Regions from separate parts of the Homo sapiens genome. Here region 2 is linked to region 1. A link means that fine-mapping ties the variant in region 1 to the expression of a gene that starts in the linked region. Tissue or cell type: whole blood. Region 1 holds a variant in brackets; the other region holds the start of a gene. All regions are shown on one strand. Distances are between the middles of the regions.

Region 1 (10,121 bases):
ACCTTTGTCAGCAGCATTTTAAAATACGTACAAAATCTGTAACCTTTACCTCATTTTTAAAAAGTTGTACTTTATCAGCATCTTGCCAAAATGTTTCTTCCCACAGCTTCAAACATACCCATATAGATAAACCAGACTGCTCAGGGCCCCCCATGGACATAAGTAACAAGGCTTCTGGGGAGATAAAAATTGCCTATACTTACTCTGTTAGCTTCGAGGTGAGTCTGTTGTTATCTTTAGTATAACTCTGAAATTGATTTTAAATTTGTACTACTTAAACTAATTAAAATGTTACTGATTATGCTTGTCAAATAAAGAAGCTATTAATGAGCTGATTTTTAGGATAGTTTGTCGGTGTACCAAGCAACATAATCACTCTTGTAACTGAGTCTTAGTTTAAATGAGAATATAGAGGAAGTTGAAGACTTGAGCCTGATTTAGTGTTAAGCATAAGAGATACATATAAGACAAAAGTAGAAAACAGGCCTAGAGGACGGGATGGAAATGCCAGAGATATATTCAGAAACCATTTGGGAAATCAACACCGTACTTTAAAGGATTTAAGTGTGAACTTTAAATGGAGAGCTTCCAATTGGTAGATTGTCTTAGAAAATTGAAGGGAGTGTTTTCATTAACGAAGTTTCTTAAAATGCAAATTCATTGTTATGAGAATCTTAGTATTCTACCTTTATTTTTTCACCATTTTTAAAATCAAGATTTAATTATGAACTTTAAATGAAGAGTTTCCGATTGGGAGATTGTCTTAGAAAATTGAAGGGAGTATTTTTATTAGCGAAGTTTCTTAAAATGCAAGTTTATCATTAAAATGCAAGAATCTTAGGCAGTGTTCCAACTCTATTTTTTAAAACTTTTGGCAATCCAATATAGTTGTGATGTTTAATATCCCCGTATAATGTTTCATTTTGCAAACCTGGTGCAGTAAATAGTATATATTTCTAGATATTAAGAGCTCAGTGTGCCTGGAATGACTGGTCTGGTTAGCTGCCCCCGGCATAAAGAAAAGAATAATTATTCCATTCCATTCCATTATTTTCTTAAAAAAAAAAAAAAAACCTACATATAGGTCTAAATGTTGACATCTAAACATCTAGTTATAATTTAAAGCAATACTTTTAGTAGGTATTACTAGGAATTCTTTTTTTTTTTTTTTTTTGGTTGCATAATCTTACTCTGATTTCCCCTAGACTTTAGTAAATCTGAAACTCTCCAAATCTCAGGACTAACCAAAGTTAGATAATTTAGAAATTGCAGTTGTTGACTCAATGGAAGGACAAGCTTTGAATGGGATTTTTTTTTGTTCTTAATGTGCTGTCAGCAGATGTTTACTTAAAGAGATTTTTTAATCTCCTCTAGGAAGATGATAAGATCAGATGGGCGTCTAGATGGGACTATATTCTGGAGTCTATGCCTCATACCCACATTCAGTGGTTTAGGTAAGAGTACAGAGTTAGCCTGCTTTTGCTTTCTACTTTTCTACCCTCTGTCCCTTTGAACATCTCATTTACTCTCAAATCCTCTCTACTTTATTCAAAAGTCTGGCCTTGGGTTCAAATCCTGGCTTTCAGCCACTGATTGTGAGTCACAGCAGGTCCCTTAATTTCTCAGCGTCTGTTTCTTTATCTAGAAATACCCACCTTATGGGATTGTTGTGAGGATTAAAGGACATCATGGGACAGAATATTTGAGGACATTGTCTGGCACATAAGAGTGTTCAGAAACAGAAGCCGCTGTTGTTGCTATGACTTTATTATTATCCCCTTCAAACATGATTCAAAACTTTTATCTAGAGTTGTTCATGTTGCCATAACTCTCCTTTTCCTATTGCTGTCTGATCTTTTTGACACTCACTAATTTACTGAGTAAAGTTGTTCTTCAGTAAATTTCTTGAGGGCACAAGCCAGTCCTTTGTTGTGGCAGTGATTTGGGCACAGTAGTTATTTCATAATATTGACCATGTACCAAAAAATTCTAGTTCTAAACAGACTATGAAACTGTATTATGATAAGTATATAATGTTATTTATCTACTGGAGGGAAACATGAAAGAACACAGTTCATTGAATTTGTTGGATTTCAGATAGCTTTCATTTTGATTTTGATCAAGACTGTTTTAATGTTACTCAATAAACAGTTTTTAAAAGAGTTTTACTGTTCCTAGGATTAAGCTACAGATTACTCATGATGTGCTTATTTCTACAGCATTATGAATTCCCTGGTCATTGTTCTCTTCTTATCTGGAATGGTAGCTATGATTATGTTACGGACACTGCACAAAGATATTGCTAGATATAATCAGATGGACTCTACGGTAAGTGGAAACATTTTAGTCTTTAGTCTGCCAAGGACACTGTTTATTGTTATTTTGCAAAAAGGTAAAATAATAGCTTTAGAATCTGCTTTTAAAACATTCTTCAAAAAACAAAAACAAAAACAAAAAAATTCTTCTCAAAAGTTATCTTGAATTCACATTTTCAAATAAGAAAGTGATACTTAAGAATTAATATTCTTGGCTGGGCGCGGTGGCTCACACCTGTAATCCCAGCACTTTGGGAGGCCGGGGTGGGCGGATCACCTGAGGTCAGGAGTTCAAGACCAGCCTGACCAACATGGTGAAACCCCATCTCTCCTAAAAACACAAAAATTAGCTGGGTGTGGTGGTGGGGACCTGTAGCCCCAGCTACCTCGGGAGGCTGAGGCAGGAGAATTGCTTGAACCCAGGAGGCGGAGGCTGCAGTGAGCCAAGATCGTGCCACTGCACTCCAGCCTGGCAACAGAGCAAGACTCTGTCTCAAAAAAAAAAAAAAAAAATAGAAATGGAGTCAGCACAGCCTTGGGAGCTGACCTGTTCACAGCCTCCTGTGTGGGAATGGACTGGTGCAGCGTGGGGTGTAGGTGCACAGTTACAACTCTGTAAGGTTTCTCCATCCCTGACACATACCTGTTTGTGAAACCACAAAGTTGAATGGAATAACTCCTAAGCAATTTTTATTTGTGTGGTTAATTTTTTAAAATTAATCTTAACAAATTTGTATCATTTCAACCTTTTGATATATTTAAAATAATTGCATGTTCCAGCCTCTTTAGTCTCAAACTTTTTAAGTTGCACAGTGTTACACATTTTCTACTCTTCATTTCATGGCAGCATAATAAAAGAATTTTCACAAGAATCACAGTAATTTGGAATGAATGCAAAAAACTCAGGTTTTTATTGTATTCTCTTCCCCCAGCTTCTTCAGCCTCCTGTCCCCCAACCTCTCTGACCTGTTCTGATTGGGGAAAATATATATGAATATTCATAAGCTTTTAACGTTTGTACTCTATAGTCTCTTTCCTATGATTTTTATTGATTTTATGTCTTATTAAATATTAAAATGATTTTAAAATACTCTGTTTATAATTGGCTGTTCCACATAATTGCTGTTAATGGAGTTTTATCTTAATTTGCACAGCGTTGCCATGTGGAACCAGGCCAGTGGTGACTCTGCTTCCACAACCCTGTCCTACTTCCCATCTCTTAGCACAGCAGTCAGAGTGAAACTGCTCAAACAGAAGTCAGATCATTTCACTCTTGAGCACGGCCCTCCAGGGACTTCTGTTCAGTCAGAGCAAGAGTCAGAGGCTTTACAGTGGCTTCTAAGGCCCCACGTTACCTCAGCACTCTGCTGCACCTGTGCCGGCTACCTTGCTGTTCCTCAGACCAGGCAGACATAGGTTTCCACCTCAGAGCCTTCACGAAGCTCACTGTTTTATCTGCTAAGAAGGTCTGCCCCTCATTTACATGGCTAGTTCCCTTACCTCCCTCCGATCTTTACAAAATGTGATCTTCCCATTGAACCCCTCCCAGCCATCACATATGTTACATCCTGTCCTGCACACACCCATACATCCTGTTTTTCTGTACAGCGCTTATTACCATCTAATGTACAGTATACTTTCCTGACTTATTTTGTTTATTGTCTGCCTTCCCAATGAGATCATGTACTCCTGAGAGTAGGAATTTTTCTGTTACACTCACTGTGGTATCTGGTGTTTTAAACAGAGCCGAGCTTATAGTTGGTGCTCAATGAATGTTTACATCCATGCTTACTGTATTAGCAAAGTAGCTAGAATATGAGAGCTAATGCCATTTGCTTATTGTGGAGATCATTAAGAGTAGGATGAAGAGGATAGAATGTGACTAAAAATCGTCATCAAGTCAGATCACAAAGCTTGACTTAGAGTAGAATTAGGTAGCAATCACATTGTCTTTGTAAAGTTTCTCAATAAGTATATTTGTAGACCTTAATGTCATAAATTTAAGAAACTGACATATAAGACAGTTCAGCAAAGCCATATTAAGCTCCATGAGTCAAGCTGTATTCTTCAAAATTGAAATAGGTACTAACATTTTTAAGTTTAAAAAAAACCTGTTTTCTGTAACAGCATATTCAACAGTGAACAAACTGTCTATAGTTGTCTTGTTGATACCATGAGACAATCGAACTGATTTCATTCCCCTTTTAGGAAGATGCCCAGGAAGAATTTGGCTGGAAACTTGTTCATGGTGATATATTCCGTCCTCCAAGAAAAGGGATGCTGCTATCAGTCTTTCTAGGATCCGGGACACAGATTTTAATTATGACCTTTGTGACTCTATGTAAGTGTTAACTGAAAATTTTCAAGTAGAAAATACTTTCTAAATACAGTAATTGCTTAAAAACCAGTTTTTCTGGCCGGGCATGGTGGCTCATGCCTGTAATCCTAGCACTTTGGGAGGCCAAGGCGGGTGGATGACAAGGTCAGGAGTTTGAGACCAGACTGGCCAATATAGTGAAACCCCGTCTTTCTACTAAAAATACAAAAACTGGGCATGGTGGCAGGTGCCTGTAATCCCAGCTACTTGTGGGGCTGAGGCAGTAGCTTGAACCTGGGAGGCGGAGGTTGTAGTGAACTGAGATTGCGCCACTGCACTCCAGCCTGGGTGACAGTGCAAGACTCCATCTCAAAAAAAAAAACAAAAAACACCACAGTTTTTCTAAGTGGGTAGGTAAGCCAGATTATTTCTGAGCATCCTTTAGGTTCTCAAAATCTAAGTGACTTGGGGCAGGTTTAG[T/C]TGCACCCAAAGACTGACTCTTGGTTTCTCCCTTCAGCTCTTCCTAGACCAAGCCTTTGTCAGGGAGGCACTGGGCTGGAGATGAACAGGTCCTTAAGACCATCAGCATCTGAGTCTAAACAGCCCAGAACTGGGACCATTTAGGGTCTCTTTTACCCAGGCATCGTGGGCAGGCACAGTCTGGTTAGGGTTCCAGGATATTCTTGGCTTCCACGGAGGGAGGAGGGTGGGAAAAGAAGGGATGGGGCAGGAAGCACTGTGTAGATCCTTCTCATCTGGGGAGGATTTGGGAAGCAGGATCTCTCTCCTCTAGGGAAAGCGAGTGTGTAGGAAAGACCTTCCTTCCTCCATAAAAAGATTCTCTTCTTTGAGCTACCTCAGCGACTTCAGAAATTGTATTTAAATTTTTGCCAACTAGGACAATTTTTTTTTTTAAATAAATGTTCCTTAGAGGTATTGATAGCCACAGGGATTGTTCTGAAACTACCTCTGGGTATATGTTAATTCCACTGTCTTCCAGTTTCCTTAATTGGAAGATAAAAAAGGTTTATGAATAGAATTTTCTAAATTTTACCTTTATTTAATGTATTTTACTTTATTGATGCCTGCTACTGATAAATAGCAACAAATGAATATACTGGGAGAATTCAGAAACTAACCTTTAATAATTTTTTAGTAAACATTTATTTTTTATGTTTGATTACATATTAAATACATAATACCACAGTTATTTTTGTTAGTAAAGTTGTTCCAAATTTTTATGATAAAATTAATTATATAAATGCTTTGCAAAGAGCAGTATCATTTTCAAATGTCTGGCACTGAATAAGTTTGGGAACCAAACTCACACCTTCAGGTTCAGTTTGAAGACTGACTAGGATATCTTTTTTTTTTAATCTACTAACAACTTAAGGAGATACAATTTTGATAGGTAGAGCTAGAATTTGTAACTATATCATACTAAAGAGAAGTTAAGTCATACTAAAGAGAATAGGTCAGGAAAAGGTGTCATAAAAAAGGTTTGGACAGAGGGTGGTAGGGTGAAGGCACTGGGTGACAGAGAGCCAAACTAGACTTAGAGCAGAATGAATGTTTGAAGATAAACTTCTGCTTTCTTTCTTTCTTTTTTTTTTTGAGACGGAGCCTCGCTCTGTCACCAGGCTGGAGTTCAGTGGCGTGATCTTGGCTTACTGAAACCTCCACCTCCTAGGTCCAAGTGATTCTTCTGCCTCAGCCTCCTGAGTAGCTGGGATTACAGGCGCCTGCCACCACGCCTGGCTGATTTTTGTATTTTTGGTAGAGACACGGTTTCACCATGTTGTCCAGGATGGTCTCAATCTCTCAACCTCGTGATCCGCCCGCCTCGGCCTCCCAAAGTGCTGGGGTTACAGGCGTGAGCTACCACACCCAGCCAACTCCTGCTTTCAAATCTTATTAGGAGCTGTCTTCTGCGATGCTCTGGTTTTTATTGCGGTCAGCTAGAAAAGTGAACTTTTAAGGAAGGAAAGTTTCAGAGAGTCTAGGATAGAATACGATGGGAATAATTTTCCTTAAGTCCTCAAATAGGAACTTTCTGCCGAAGGGCAGTCCATTTTTCAGGTCGAGGAGGAGAAAGGGGTTGCATTTTAGCTGAAATCTTGTACATCTTCTAAAGCTACCCTGATGTGTTTCCTGCTCATCATGACTCTGGTGCTTGTCAGAGGTGTGTGCGCGTGCTTGCTCACATACGTGCTTGGTCATGCACGTTTTAGGGGAAACAATAGGGGGGGAAACAATGGGGATTTTCTTGCTGAGCCTCCTGAAACTCAGTTCTCAGCAGTATCCTACTCACCTTGGGATTCTGAGCACCTTATAACTTCTGAGCCCCAGCTTAAAGCTGGGAATTTCTATGAATATAATATAGCATTTTAATTCTCATTAGTAGGAAGGCTTACATAGGGAAGAGCAAACAAAGCTAACCACGTGAATAAGGTAGGGCCAGGGTTTCCCCGTATTGCTGACAAGGTCCTTCCGTAATTTGTGAAAAGCTAATGGCCGTATGAAATCTTTCTCCCTCATTTTGTTCTTTCATTAGATTATATATGTCTCTTCTGTTTGAATGTTGTAAGGTTTTGGGTTTTTTTTTTTTTACCCCCAGAGGACCCCCATATTTTTTAATGAAAGAACAGTGGGAATATTTTGTAGTGGAAACATTTTCACTTATGTCAATTTTAAAGGCTGTACTTGAATCTCAGAAGAGTCAAATGCACTCTTGAGCATCCAGTCAGCCTCCCCTGATCACAGGAAGGATGTGATCTCTCATTCTGGACTCTGAGAAGAAACTTCCAAAGTGAAGTTTGCCTCATGTATGATCAGATTGGTGCAGTACAGTAAATATTACTAAGATTGTGTAGAGCTGCATGGTAGGAGAGCACATGGTTTTGCGTGAAGTTGTATTTTTTTCTTGTTTGAAAAATGAGAGGGTTTCTCTATCATTTCACAGCAAAGGAAACAGAGTAATAACATGTACAGCCTTTCACGATTTGTGTTTTAGTTTTCGCTTGCCTGGGATTTTTGTCACCTGCCAACCGAGGAGCGCTGATGACGTGTGCTGTGGTCCTGTGGGTGCTGCTGGGCACCCCTGCAGGCTATGTTGCTGCCAGATTCTATAAGTGTAAGTCAAAGCCACTGTGACTGGCGTCTGATCAGGAAGGGACTCTGCTGCGGCTGTGGATCTGACCTGGGTATCAGATGGTGATGCTTTGTAAATAGTGTGCCTCATAGGGGTCTGTTCTTAGTTAAAAGGAGCCTGCTTGGTGATTCCTTTTGTGTCATGAGTTACTATCCCAAAATTTATTTGTTCGAAAATGTTTAGTGAAACAAGCAAATTGTGCCACTTATCCACTATCCCCTCCCTCTTTTTTTCTTTAAGCTTTGGCTAACAGGTTGGGCTGAACAGCTTAGATTTGCTGTGTTCATAGAAGCACATATAGACTAATAAAGGAGAAAAGTATACAAATGAGTATCACTGATTTTTTTCACTAAAACAACTAGTACATCTAGGTGTACCTTTTCTTACATATGAGAAGTCATACTTACATTGTATCAATTTAATATTTATAAAAATACACTGTTTCAAGTAAACAAAGATCTCATTATTTTGGAGACCTGGAAAGTTACTTTTGTAATATCATTAGTCACAATCTCTTGTGTTCTTGCATTCTAGAAGTAAAATAAAGTTCAGTGAAACAAAAGGCTCACGGCCACAGAGTAAGGCTGAGATGGGACTGGATGGCTTAGAAAGCAGCTGGCAGGGTCAGCAGGGACCAGAGCTGGCCTCCTCGGGAATGCCACAGTCTCGTCTGGGATATACAGTGATTCCCCACGGTCTAGCAATGTGAAAAAGTTTTGAGGTGAAGCACAGTAGAGTTACGTGGACAACCTTAATGTGGGGTTGGGTAGTCTCAGCCCCCAGTAAAAGATTAACTTAGACCTTGTCAGACACAGTTCTCTCTTGAGTATGTGAAGCCCTGTATGTATGTGTGTTTTAAGTGTGTTTTAATTTCTGTGAATTTTGTCAAGTTCTTTCTTCCCCTTTACTAAAGGAGGTAGGATTAGGGCCATCATACGGATTTTAATGCATACAAAATACAGTCAGCCCTTTGCCTGCCACACCAGCCTTACTTCATGCCACACTCCCCCTTTCTCACCATTTCAGCCACACAGGCTTTCTGTCGGTTCCTCGGACAGGCTGCCTGCTTTCCCACACCCTGCTCCCATCTGCACTCCACTCACTAATGCCTCCCCATCCTTCAGGTCTCCCAGCTGCAGATCCTGTATTACTTGAATTTTGACTGAAATTATAGTAAACCCAGAATTAATCATTTCATAACAGTCTGTTTATCAGAAACATTGTGAGTTCAAATCATGATACATATATATGATCTTATGTGTATATGTAATTTTATTATTTTCTTTTAGGGCAAGTGGCACTTAAACTTGCCTATCAACTATGTTAAAACTTTTTTAAAAATCACAGCTGTTCTGAGATCTCAGCCAGTTTCATTTCTGACTTAAACTGGGAGCAGACGTGTACTTTCATTTTTCACTCTAGCTACTTCAGTATTTGAATTCTTTAAACTGGAAAAAAAAGCAAGTTGGAGAGGGGCAAAGGAGAGTAAAACATATATTAGCAAACATGGTCTGTCAAATGGTCATAACCCTTCTACTCTTCTTAGTTGCCTCATCTGACACACGCACCTCCTAGGAACCACAGTTCCTCCTAGAAACCACAGTGCTAGAGGAAGAGTTGGCCTACTGTGGAAGTGTAAATGTGTTGCACATCAGGCTTGACGGTTCCCAGTTTTATAACAAATTCTGAAACTGACTGCAAGATAAGTGAGAATCCCGTGTGCCCTTCCTGTGCCTAGGCCCATTGATTGATACTGGCTCAGGATTTAAGGATTCTTTTGGTTGTGAGGGGAAAAGAAGAACTGATCTTGATGACTTGCCTCTGATTCTCTAGAGCAGGACTTACCTAGGGAATCCCATCCTGTATGTCTCAGATTTGGATTATTTAATAAAGGAATATCATATTATATTTGCTAGTACCATTTTCTAGGAATGAGTACTCATTGCTGTCTGACAGTTTGGCAAATATCAGACTTGTAATATGGATATTTGGTTTGCTTTAAAGAAAATCTGTATTTATACAACTTTTGTTTTCTTCTATAGCCTTTGGAGGTGAGAAGTGGAAAACAAATGTTTTATTAACATCATTTCTTTGTCCTGGGTAAGTGAATTTTTCAAGAATTACTTTCTTAACATAGTTACATGTTAGTCCCCAAATTTTCAGTCGTTGAGTCTTTAATCCTCCGTGTCTCTAAATCATGTACCTAAGAAAGTAAATTTAATTTTTGAAAAGGGGTAAAATAAATATTTTATAAACGTTTGCCAAATGATTACCACATGTCTTATCTGGGGAAAGTACCTTTAGACATGAGAAATGTTTTAATTCCTTCTCTTCAAAG
Region 2 (10,121 bases), 45 kb before region 1:
TTCACGTGGGTCCTTTTCTATTTTCCCTAAGTGTTGGCTGGTCTGAGAAATAAAGGGAAAGAGTACAAAGAGAGAAATTTTAAAGCTGGGTGTCCAGGGGAGACATCATATGTCGGCAGGTTCTGTGATGCCCCCTAAGCCGTAAAACCAGCAAGTTTTTATTAGTGATTTCCAAAAGGGGAGGGAGTGTATGAATAGGGTGTGGGTCACAGAGATCACATGCTTCACAAGGTAATAAAATATCACAAGGCAAATGGAGGCAGGGTGAGATCACGGGACCACATGACCAGGGCGAAATTAAAATTGCGAGTGAAGTTTCGGGCACGCATTGTCATTGATAACATCTTATCAGGAGACAGGGTTTGAGAGCAGACAACCAGTCTGACCAAAATTTATTAGGTGGGAATTTCCTCGTCCTAATAAGCCTGGGAGCACTATGGGAGTCCGGGGCTTATTTCTTCCCTTATCTACGACCATAAAAGACAGCCGTCCCCAGAGTGGCCATTTTGGAGGACTACCCCTAGGCACACATTCTCTGTCTCAGGGCTGTTCCTTGCTGAGAAAAAGAATTCAGCGATATTTCTCCTATTTGCTTTAGAAAGAAGAGAAATATGGCTCTGTTCTGCCCGGCCCATAGGCAGCCAGACGTTAAGATTATCTCCCTTGTTCCTTGAACGTTGCTGTTATCCTGTTCTTAAGGTGCCCAGATTTGATACTGTTCAAACACACATGCTCTACAAACAATTTGTGCAGTTAACACAATCATCACAGGGTCCTGAGGCGACTTACATCCTCCTCAGCTTACGAAGATGACGGGATTAAGAGATTAAAGTAAAGACAGGCATAGGAAATCACAAGAGTATTGATTGGGGAAGTGATAAATGTCCATAAAATCTTCACAATTTATGTTCAGAGATTGCAGTAAAGACAGGCGTAAGAAATTATAAAAGTGTTAATTTGGGGAACTAATAAATGTCCATGAAATCTTCACAGTTTATGTTCTTCTGCCATGGCTTCAGCCAGTCCCTTCATTCAGGGTCCCTGACTTCCCACAACACTCCACCACTGAGGACCTACTATGAACTTTCCTTAAGGTTTTTCTATCCCACTTAAAGCAACCCTTTAACCCTTTAAATTTAGGCAATAAATTGCCTTTCATGAATTTTCCCCCCACCCCATGCCCCACACAGACCACCTCCGACATGCTCAGACCCTCTGACTTGTATAACCTTTTTTGCATAGTCTGTCCTTTAGCCAGATGAGTAGGGGAAGGGAAGAACTTAGCATAAGAAAAGGTTTAAGTCTCCTGAAAAGTGTGTGAGTTCGCCCAGGATGAGCTTCCGCTGCCAACCGCATCACATGTAGGGATCAGGGACTATAGCTGGAAAGGATAGAAAAGAGTCCTTCCCTCTTCAAGGCAGGGCAGCCATCCCTGTTCACTCCTTGGCCTTCAGACAGCACTGGAGAGTGGTCCCAGCCAGTTCCCCTCAATTGCCAAGGAGCTACTAGAAAACAGCCACTGAAAGACTGGAAAAGAAAAAAAGGGAAATAACTCAGAAAAAGGAAAAAAGGAATAGGACTCAGAAAAACAAAAACAAGGAAAAGGACTCAGGTCCCTCACCCAAACCCAGTGGTGTTACTCAGACGCTTCCACATGGAAGCCTTTCAGTTTCACCAGAGAGAGGCTCTGGCCAGAAACTTGCAGTTGTCACTATGCTTAGGCACTGTTCACCAAGAGTCCCGAGTTGGAAAGGAAAAGAAAGAGAGAAAGATTCCCCTGTATGTAGCAGAGAGGAAAAGAAGAAAGGAGAAAAATAAATCCCATACTTTGGGCTTCCTCCTACCTGGCTCGCCAAACCCGTAGAGGGTCTTGAGTGCAAGTTGTCCAGATTCTTGGGGTTTTGAACAAAGAATTGAACAAAACGCACTGCAAAGCAAGGAAAGCAGAGATTTATTGAAAGTGAAAGTACACTTCACAGTGTGGGAGTGAGCCCAAGCAGTAGCTCAAGAACCCCGGATACAGAATCTTCTCAGGTCCAAATACCCTCTAGAGGTTTCCCATTGGCCACCTACTTGGTGTTTGCCTCATGTAAATGAAGTGGTGGCCCGCAATCAGAGGCTAAAGTGAAGTTACAAAGTTGCACTTCCATGCAAATGAAGATTCAGCCCACAATCAGTCTGATTGGTTGCGGACAGCAAGTTGTCCAGGTTCTTGGCGTTTTGAACAAATAATTGGACAAAACGCACAGTAAAGCTAGGAAAGAATGAAGCAAGGAAAGCAGAGATTTATTGAAAGTGAAAGTACACTTCACAGTGTGGGAGCAGGCTGAGCAGCAGCTCAAGGGCCCCAGATACAGAATCTTCTCGGGTCCAAATACCCTCTAGATGTTTCCCATTGGCCACTTACTTGGTGCTCACCCCATGTAAATGAAGTGGTGGCCTGCAATCAGAGGCTAAAGTGAAGTTACAAAGTTGCACTTCTATTCAAACGAAGCCTTGGCCCACAATCAGTCTGATTGGTTGGGGACAGCAACCAATCAGAGGCTGAAGTGAAGTTACAAAGTTACACTCTATGCAAACATCTGATTAGTTGCAGAAAGCAACCAATCAGAGGCACTTTCAATTTTCCAGCTGCGGCACAGAAAAGGTGGGGGTTTGCAAAGGGAGTGGCCTCTGGGCCTTTTGTTACTTAGGAGTGGAAAGTTAGGGTTTTCCTTTCCAAATGGCTCTAGGAAGTCAGTGTGAAACGGCCTTAGGTTCCCTGCTCGCAGACCCTGTTCTCCTGCCTAACTACTAGAGTACAGTGTGCACTTCCTAAAAACGGAAGCACTTTTGCTAATAATTTTAACTTGACACAAAAGTAGGGTGATCAGATAAAATACCCTTATGTCCCATGTAATAGTTGGAATGTACTTATACTAAAAAATTATTCATTGATCATCTGAAATTAAAATTTACCTGGGTATACTGTACTTTTATTTGCTATATCCGACAATCTTATACAGAAGTCGTCATGGGAAACTCAGAAAAGGCTGTCCAAATTATTCTGGCAGAGAGGAGTGGAAGAAACAAATGCCATTTAGGTTGGGTGCAGTGGCTCACACCTGTAATCCCAGCACTTTGGGAAGGCAAGGTGGATCACGGGGTCAGGAGATGGAGACCACCCTGGCCAATATGGTGAAACCCCATCTCTACTAAAAATACAAAAATTAGCTGGGCGGGGTGGTGCGTGCCTGTAACCCCAGCTACTGGAGAGGCTGAGGCAGGAGAATTGCTTGAACCAGGGAGTCAGAGGTTGCAGTGAGCCAAGATGGCGCCACTGCACTCCAGCTTGGTGACAGAGTGAGATTCTGTTTCAAAAACAAAAGAAAAAGAAAAAAAGACACAAATGCTGTTAAAAAAAATTTAAAAGACAAAAACAAAAAACTGTGGGGCCCGGCGTGGTGGCTCACGCGTGTAATCTCGGCACTGGGGGAGACCAAGGCAGGCGGATCACCTGAGTTCAGGAGTTCGAGAACAGCCTAGCCTGGCCAACATGGTGAAACCCCATCTCTACTAAACATACAAAAATTAGCTGGGCGTGGTGGCTGGCACCTGTAATCCCAGTTACTTGGGAGGCTGAGGCACAAGAATCGCTTGAACCTGGAAGGCGGAGGTTGCAGTGAGCTGAGATCCTGCCACTGCACTCCAGCCTAGGCAACAGCGAGACTCTGTTGCATTTAAAAAAAAATTGTGGTAAAATATACATAATAGAAAACTTACCGTCTAACCATTTTTAAGTGTACACTTCTGTGACATTAGCATATTTGCATTGTTGTGCAGTCATCACCATTCATCCCAACTTTTTCACCAACCCATACTGAAACCGTATGCCATTAAACAGTAAATCCCCATCCCTCCTTCTGCAGACTCTCTCTACAACCACTGCTCTACTTTCTGTCTCTATGAATATGACAGCACCATAGTATTGGCGGTAAATCAGAGTTGGCAAATGCAATCTGAAGCAGAGGAGAGGAGAGAGTCATATCCCTCAAGTTTTACAGTCCCATTAAAAGTATTAGTACTTTGAGAAAAGGACCGTCACGATCATGGGGAGAATGAAGGAAAAACTCCATTTCTTTCCAGTTTGCAACTGGAATTGTCACTTTCGTCTTTCGGCACGACAGCGCCCAGGCCACAAAAGCCCACAGGGCAGGGCCTCCATTTTGTGGCCTGCGTGGAGGGCGGGGCGGTCTCTCTCCGCCACGCCCCAGCACCGGGTAGACACCGCAGCCACGTAACCAAGGAACCCCGAATGAGGCGTTGGCCAGGTGAGGCCGGATCCGGAAGTAGGGGGACCACTTCGCCCCGCGTACGAGCCCCGCCCCCGGCCCCTCCCACCAGACCCAGGCCGACCTAGATGACGTGTCCGAGTAGGAGTTGGCGAGGTGCGGCCGGGCGGCCGGCCCTGCGCATGCGTGATACTTGCACCGGTCGAGATGGTAGCATGAGTCTGGAGGTCATTTTCTTTGAGAAAGGCTCCGCTTCTCCGGGTTTTTGCTGATGCCGATCCCGGGGGATTGAGGAAACATTGAGCTCTGGAGTGGAAAAGGTTGCAGACTTTTAGACTCCCAAGTCGTTGTAGTCTCAATCTCTAGTGGCTGCGTTACTGCAGGAAGTCACGGAAGCCTCTCCCCTTTCTTAGGCGCATCCTTGGCTGTAAAAGGAGGTTAAAAGCCCCTGGAAAACCTCAGGTTTATTTCAGCTCTGAAAGTCCGGTTCCAAATTTAGATCCAGCACTCTTGTGGCCTGGCCAGTGATGGTCGTGGAGTGCTTTCCCCGCGCCTGCGGTCTCTAGGCTCTGTGGATGTAGAGGTGTGGGATGTAGGAGCAGGCCCTTACCCGTGGAATTCACATATAAATGGGGGAATGAGACAGCAAACAAACAAACGTGATCCTTCCTGATAGTGGTAAATGTGGGATGCCGAGGTTTAAGCAGACGAGTGGTATTAAGGGATTTCAAGGTTTTATAAAATTGATTTTGCCAAGAGTGGAAGCTGAGAGGCTACTGCAGTAAGAAGTCCAGGGGAACTAAGAATTTGGCTTGGACCAGAGTGGTAGCTGTGGGCATGGAAAGTACTGAAAGGATTTAGCCCATAGTTTAGCAGCCCAACCAACGGGACCTGCTGAAGGACTGGAGGTAGGTAGTGAGGAAATGAGAAATTTAGGTTCTTCTCCAGGGTTGGGGCCTGAAAAGAGATGGGCAGCGATGCCGTTTCCTGGAAAACTGGGAGAGGAAATGTTTGGGATGAGGGCAGTGAGATATAATGAAGGTCAAGTTTTTTTTTTGTTTTTTTTTTTTTTTTTTTGAGACGGAGTCGTGCTCAGTCGCCCAGGCTGGAGTGCAGTGGCGCGATCTCGGCTTACCGCAAGCTCCGCCTCCCGGGTTCACGCCATTCTCCTGCCTCAGCCTCCCAAGTAGCTGGGACTACAGGAGCCCGCCACCACGCTCGGCTAATTTTTTTGTATTTTTAGTAGAGACGGGGTTTCACCGTGTTAGCCAGGATGGTCTCGATCTTCTGACCTCGTGATCCGCCCATCTCGGCCTCCCAAAGTGCTGGGATTACAGGCGTGAGCCACCGCGCCGGCCGAAGGTCAAGTTTCAGTGGTGCTAGGAAAAGAAGATAGTGAGCAAAAATGTTAATTTTTGTTTCCTCCTCTTAATATTTGGAGAAAACGTCTGCTTCCTTTTGTTATATTGGAAATCTCCATGACTTCCAAATACAGAATATTTTACAATTTTTCCCTATCCCAAAGTTCAGCGAATATGTTGATTTATTTGAGGGAGAGGACATGAAAGGGAAGCCACCTAGGCACAATTTTCTGCTCAGGCCCTACCAGATTAGTTTTTGTTATCAAAAAAAAAAAAAAAAGTGCCATTCCTTGGGCCAAGCTATGTGCTCAGCACTTTCCCTCCATTTTTGATTTAATCTTCACAACAACCTTAAGATGAACGTTCTTTTCTACTTCCCAGTTCTCTTGATTAACTTGGCTACCCCACTATATGGATCAATTTGCAGGGTCCTAGGTCCCTTTGAAAATCTGATGAAAGTTATAAACCTTACCTGGGAAAAAAGTACAAACACCCGCAAGAACTTGAAATAGGAGTTCACTGGCCCTCAACTTTCTGAGCTTACTATTTCACAAACCTGCCTATTCTTGAATTCTGAGCTGGAGGTCATGATTCTCTCTTATGTACTTTAAGATGATGCACTCTTCCGAAGTTTTTGATTGAACTCTAGTGGCTAACTGAATTGACTTTTTCAGATCACTAAAAAGCTTCTCCTTGAAAAATACTCAGAAGATGCAACACACACACACACACACGTGTGTGCACTTACACACGCGGACACCGTCTCACATCATCAGTGGGAAAAGTGATAGAATCTTGCTAAAGGCTGATCATACCATATTAATCCGATTCGCCAGAACTACTTTCTTCACTGAGCTCTCAGGTATGCTCGGGTCTTCCTTTAAAGAAAATAAATGTCAACGCTACACTCTATCCTACTCCCATTTTCCTCCTCACCCCATTTCCACTCTCCCTTAAAGAGATGTGTGCACACAATCACTGCCCAATGCAAGAATGCACCACTGCATCCAATGCTTGGAAATTGTCCGTGAAGATGCCTTTGAGTAGCTGTCTATTTGAGGATTTGTGGCTAATTCCTCCCCATTTGTTTCCTTAGCCTGCTCCCAACCAGGTGTCTCCAGAACTTTTTCTCTCCGCCACCAACTCCGCCTCCAGACAGACCGCAGGTGCTTTCTGTCATAGGGACTGGCGTGCCGCGGACAGTGTGACAAAGAAACTGTATGATGGATATGAGAACTTCGTAAGACCCAGCAGCAAACGGGGAGCGGCTGGCGAGCGCTCCACAGCCCCCAAGCGTGGGAGCTCTAGATCGGAATTTGTAATTTGGAATTGGAACGTGAGCGCCGGAACAGCTCTCCCAGCAACCACCTCTCCCAGCAACCACCTCAGCTGGCGCGCGGAAAACCCGGAAAGTGGATTTCGCCCCCGCTCCCTCCCGGAAACTCCTCCTGGTGCCTGCGACCGTTCTCACTGAGCATGTGCAGACGGCGGTGCGCATGCTCTGTTGCGGTCCGCTTCGGTTTCTGTTGCGGGACCCGGGGTGTCTCCTAGCGCAACCGGAACTAGCCTTCTGGGGGCCGGCTTCCTTTATCTCTGGCGGCCTTGTAGTCGTCTCCGAGACTCCCCACCCCTCCTTCCCTCTTGACCCCCTAGGTTTGATTGCCCTTTCCCCGAAACAACTATCATGAGCGCGAGGCTGCCGGTGTTGTCTCCACCTCGGTGGCCGCGGCTGTTGCTGCTGTCGCTGCTCCTGCTGGGGGCGGTTCCTGGCCCGCGCCGGAGCGGCGCTTTCTACCTGCCCGGCCTGGCGCCCGTCAACTTCTGCGACGAAGAAAAAAAGAGCGACGAGTGCAAGGTGGGTGAGGCCTGACGAGCCCTCTGATGCACTGTTGGAAGGGGAAGTCGTCCCTATCCGGGGGAGCTGATCCTCGGGTGGGAGCGAGGGAAGGGGGCGTAGCAGCGGGTGGGGTTGAGTTTCCCCAGAAGCTTTTGGGGTCTGCTGGGCTGTGGGTGGGGGGCTCTGAAACAGCCCTTGCAAGGGTAGTTTCTGGAGGACGCAGTGGGCCTCAGACTCGCCTCCCGTCTTGCGGGCCAAGTGGCACGAGCAGCTGTATTCAGTTTTCCTGGAACAGGGACCGTGTGGAGCGCCCTTGGAGTTGGGCTTCACGCCTCAGAGCTTTGGAGTTGGATGTATGCAGGTCCACGCGTGAGTGTTCGCTCACAGCCCTGTAACATGTACGCTGAGGAAGCGGGTGACCGACTCCCTACATGTGAGCAACACTCAGCCTAGTTAACAGTTTCCATTAGCTTTTAACTTCATTGCTTCCTGTTTAATTGCATTTTCCTGGAACCTTCTAGTTGGTTAGGAGAGCTTGTTCTTTCTAGGACTTTGATATCTCGCTTCACAATTAGAAGTTGGTTCCTTATTTGTGGAGTATAACACCCAGAGCCACACAAAGTGCATTAATAAAGAGTTGCTGTAATGGTTGAGGCACTTGATTTCTGAGTTTTAAGTGTAAAAGATTTTAATACACAAAAAAAGATACGAGGTCTCACTATTTTCTCTGAGATGGTTTTAAACACTTAAAAGGGGCAAATGGTGGGAGAAACTGGTGTTTTCCTAGGGCAAGTCTTGAAAACTTTGATCTCTTACAACATTCACACTCAAGGTTTTCAGTTTAATTGCTAGTAAAAGAGGCGTAAATAAAGTAACCTGCTTTTAGGTTATATGGTGTAGGGCTTTACAGTATACATACACAATTATTTCGTTAAGTTTATTTAAAACTTAACATTTGGGGGATGAGGATCTCTTTGAAACCTTTAATGATTTCAACAATTCAAATAATCGTTCAACAAACGTTTACAATCTATAAATAGGCTTATTTATTAAGTTTGATTTTTTTAAGCTGGTGTTTATTACAGTTAGCTTTACTATAGCTGTGAATTTTGAGGTTATTTTAGGGCATTAGATAAGCTTTAAATTTTTCATAACATTTTGCAGTTTCTTTTTAGGTTGTCAGCTATCTTGAATGACATGTTTATACATCTGTGCAAAACCTTGTATCTGAAAAAATATCTAAGGATATTTAAGGTTTACTCAAGTCTGCAGTTAGTGTTTCAGTACTTAAGTTCATACTCTGCAGTGCAAGAAGCTTTCACTCCTTTTTGAGGATTCTGACTGAAAGACTGTTGTTGTGCTTCCAAGTGGAAGATCTAGACTTGCAAGTACACTGGTTTTTCCATTAAATATTTTAGTAACCAACCTTTAAGGCCTAGTGTTTGGTCTTACTTTAACAGCAGTTGTATATTCTATTCCTAGTGCCTCAAAGATGAAAAATATATTTCCTGCCCTCTGGGAACCTCAAAGTAAGGGACATAAGCTTATGAACAGATTATTGAAATCTGATCTGTTACACAGGATGATGTCCAAAGTGTGCTAAAACAAAATGAGGAAACATCAGTGGACTAGAGTCTTTAGGGAAAGCTCTATAGAAGAAGTGACAGGGCCAGGTGTGGTGGCTCACGCCTGTAATCCCAACACATTGGGAGGCCGAGGCGGGTGGATCACCTGAAGTCAGGAGTTTAAGACCAGCCTGGCCAATATGGTGAAACCGCGTCTCTACTAAAAATACAAAAATTAGCTGGGCGTGGTGGCGGGCATCTGTAATCCCAGCTACTCGGGAGGCTGAGGCAGGAAGAATCGCTTGAACTCTGGAGGTGGAGGTTGCAGTGAGCTGAGATCGCGCCATTGCACTCCAGCCTGGGCAACAGAGCGAGACTTTGTCTCAAAAAAAAAAAAAAAAAAAAAAAGAAGAAGAAGTGACATTTGAGATGGACTTAGAAAATGAATAAGTGAAACTTATAGGTGGTCTTCCAGTTAGATGATTGTTTTCTCAACAGGTCCTTTGGTAAGTGGCTAGGTTGTATTCTAGTTATTTTTTAGTTAATCTTGGGAGTCATTTTGGATGTTTAATTTTCATAGGTATAGGGATAAAACAGGCAGAGCAGATCATTTTTCCGAAATGTTTGGATTTTTATCTTTATTGCCAGCTACACTCACATCTGGTTAATGGAAACAACTCTTAGAAGAGCAGGAGGGTGTACTTTCAGCTTTTTTCCTGCGATATGACTAACTGGTGTAGAGAATTTGAAATACACTTTAATATTTATTTTCTTTGCCTTTCAAAGAAGATGCTATAAATAACAGTAAACAGTTGAAATTTGTATTACTTCAATCAGGATGTTAATAATTTATTCTCATCTATTTCGTATTTGTTAAGGAGGACAGTCTTGTACACATTATTCAGAAAAGTGGAAGGAACTTCTTTTAAAAATTAGAAATGAGAGTTGTGAAATGGAAATAATTTTTTCCAAAAGATGCTGTTAAGTTAGTGAATCTGAAGTTGGAGAAATTGGGCAGGTCATTGATACTGTTACCAACAGTTTTTCCATCTGTAAAATAGGGATAATCATATTTGATTATGACATA

Evidence for each region. PIP is the estimated chance that this variant, and not a neighbour inherited with it, causes the effect.
Region 2: LINC01232 starts here. The variant in region 1 is fine-mapped to the expression of LINC01232 in whole blood (TOPMed, PIP 0.99).

Annotation. Positions count from the first base shown.
Region 1 is chr13:99,539,340-99,549,460 of GRCh38, forward strand. TM9SF2 (transmembrane 9 superfamily member 2) reads left to right here. Exons shown (of 17, transcript NM_004800.3): 7 at 107-218; 8 at 1,375-1,454; 9 at 2,220-2,328; 10 at 4,524-4,656; 11 at 7,646-7,765; 12 at 9,826-9,883. Among named protein-coding and RNA genes, the nearest start is that of LINC01039, 33 kb to the right of the region's middle. RefSeq lists a silencer at 3,492-3,561 and enhancers at 3,912-3,971, 6,939-7,088, 9,036-9,085. The variant T/C (reference allele first, on the strand shown) is at 5,113.
Region 2 is chr13:99,494,291-99,504,411 of GRCh38, forward strand. LINC01232 (long intergenic non-protein coding RNA 1232) reads right to left here and starts at 5,016. Exons shown (of 5, transcript NR_110731.1): 1 at 4,396-5,016; 2 at 2,959-3,046; 3 at 2,085-2,254; 4 at 1,845-1,927. It overlaps TM9SF2 (transmembrane 9 superfamily member 2), which reads left to right and starts at 7,182. Exons shown (of 17, transcript NM_004800.3): 1 at 7,182-7,487. The coding sequence starts at 7,317. LINC00449 (long intergenic non-protein coding RNA 449) reads right to left here and starts at 6,773. Exons shown (of 2, transcript NR_133664.1): 1 at 6,105-6,773; 2 at 5,433-5,650. RefSeq lists enhancers at 1,035-1,549, 4,270-4,479, 4,490-4,609, 6,888-7,067, 6,974-7,562 and 1 more.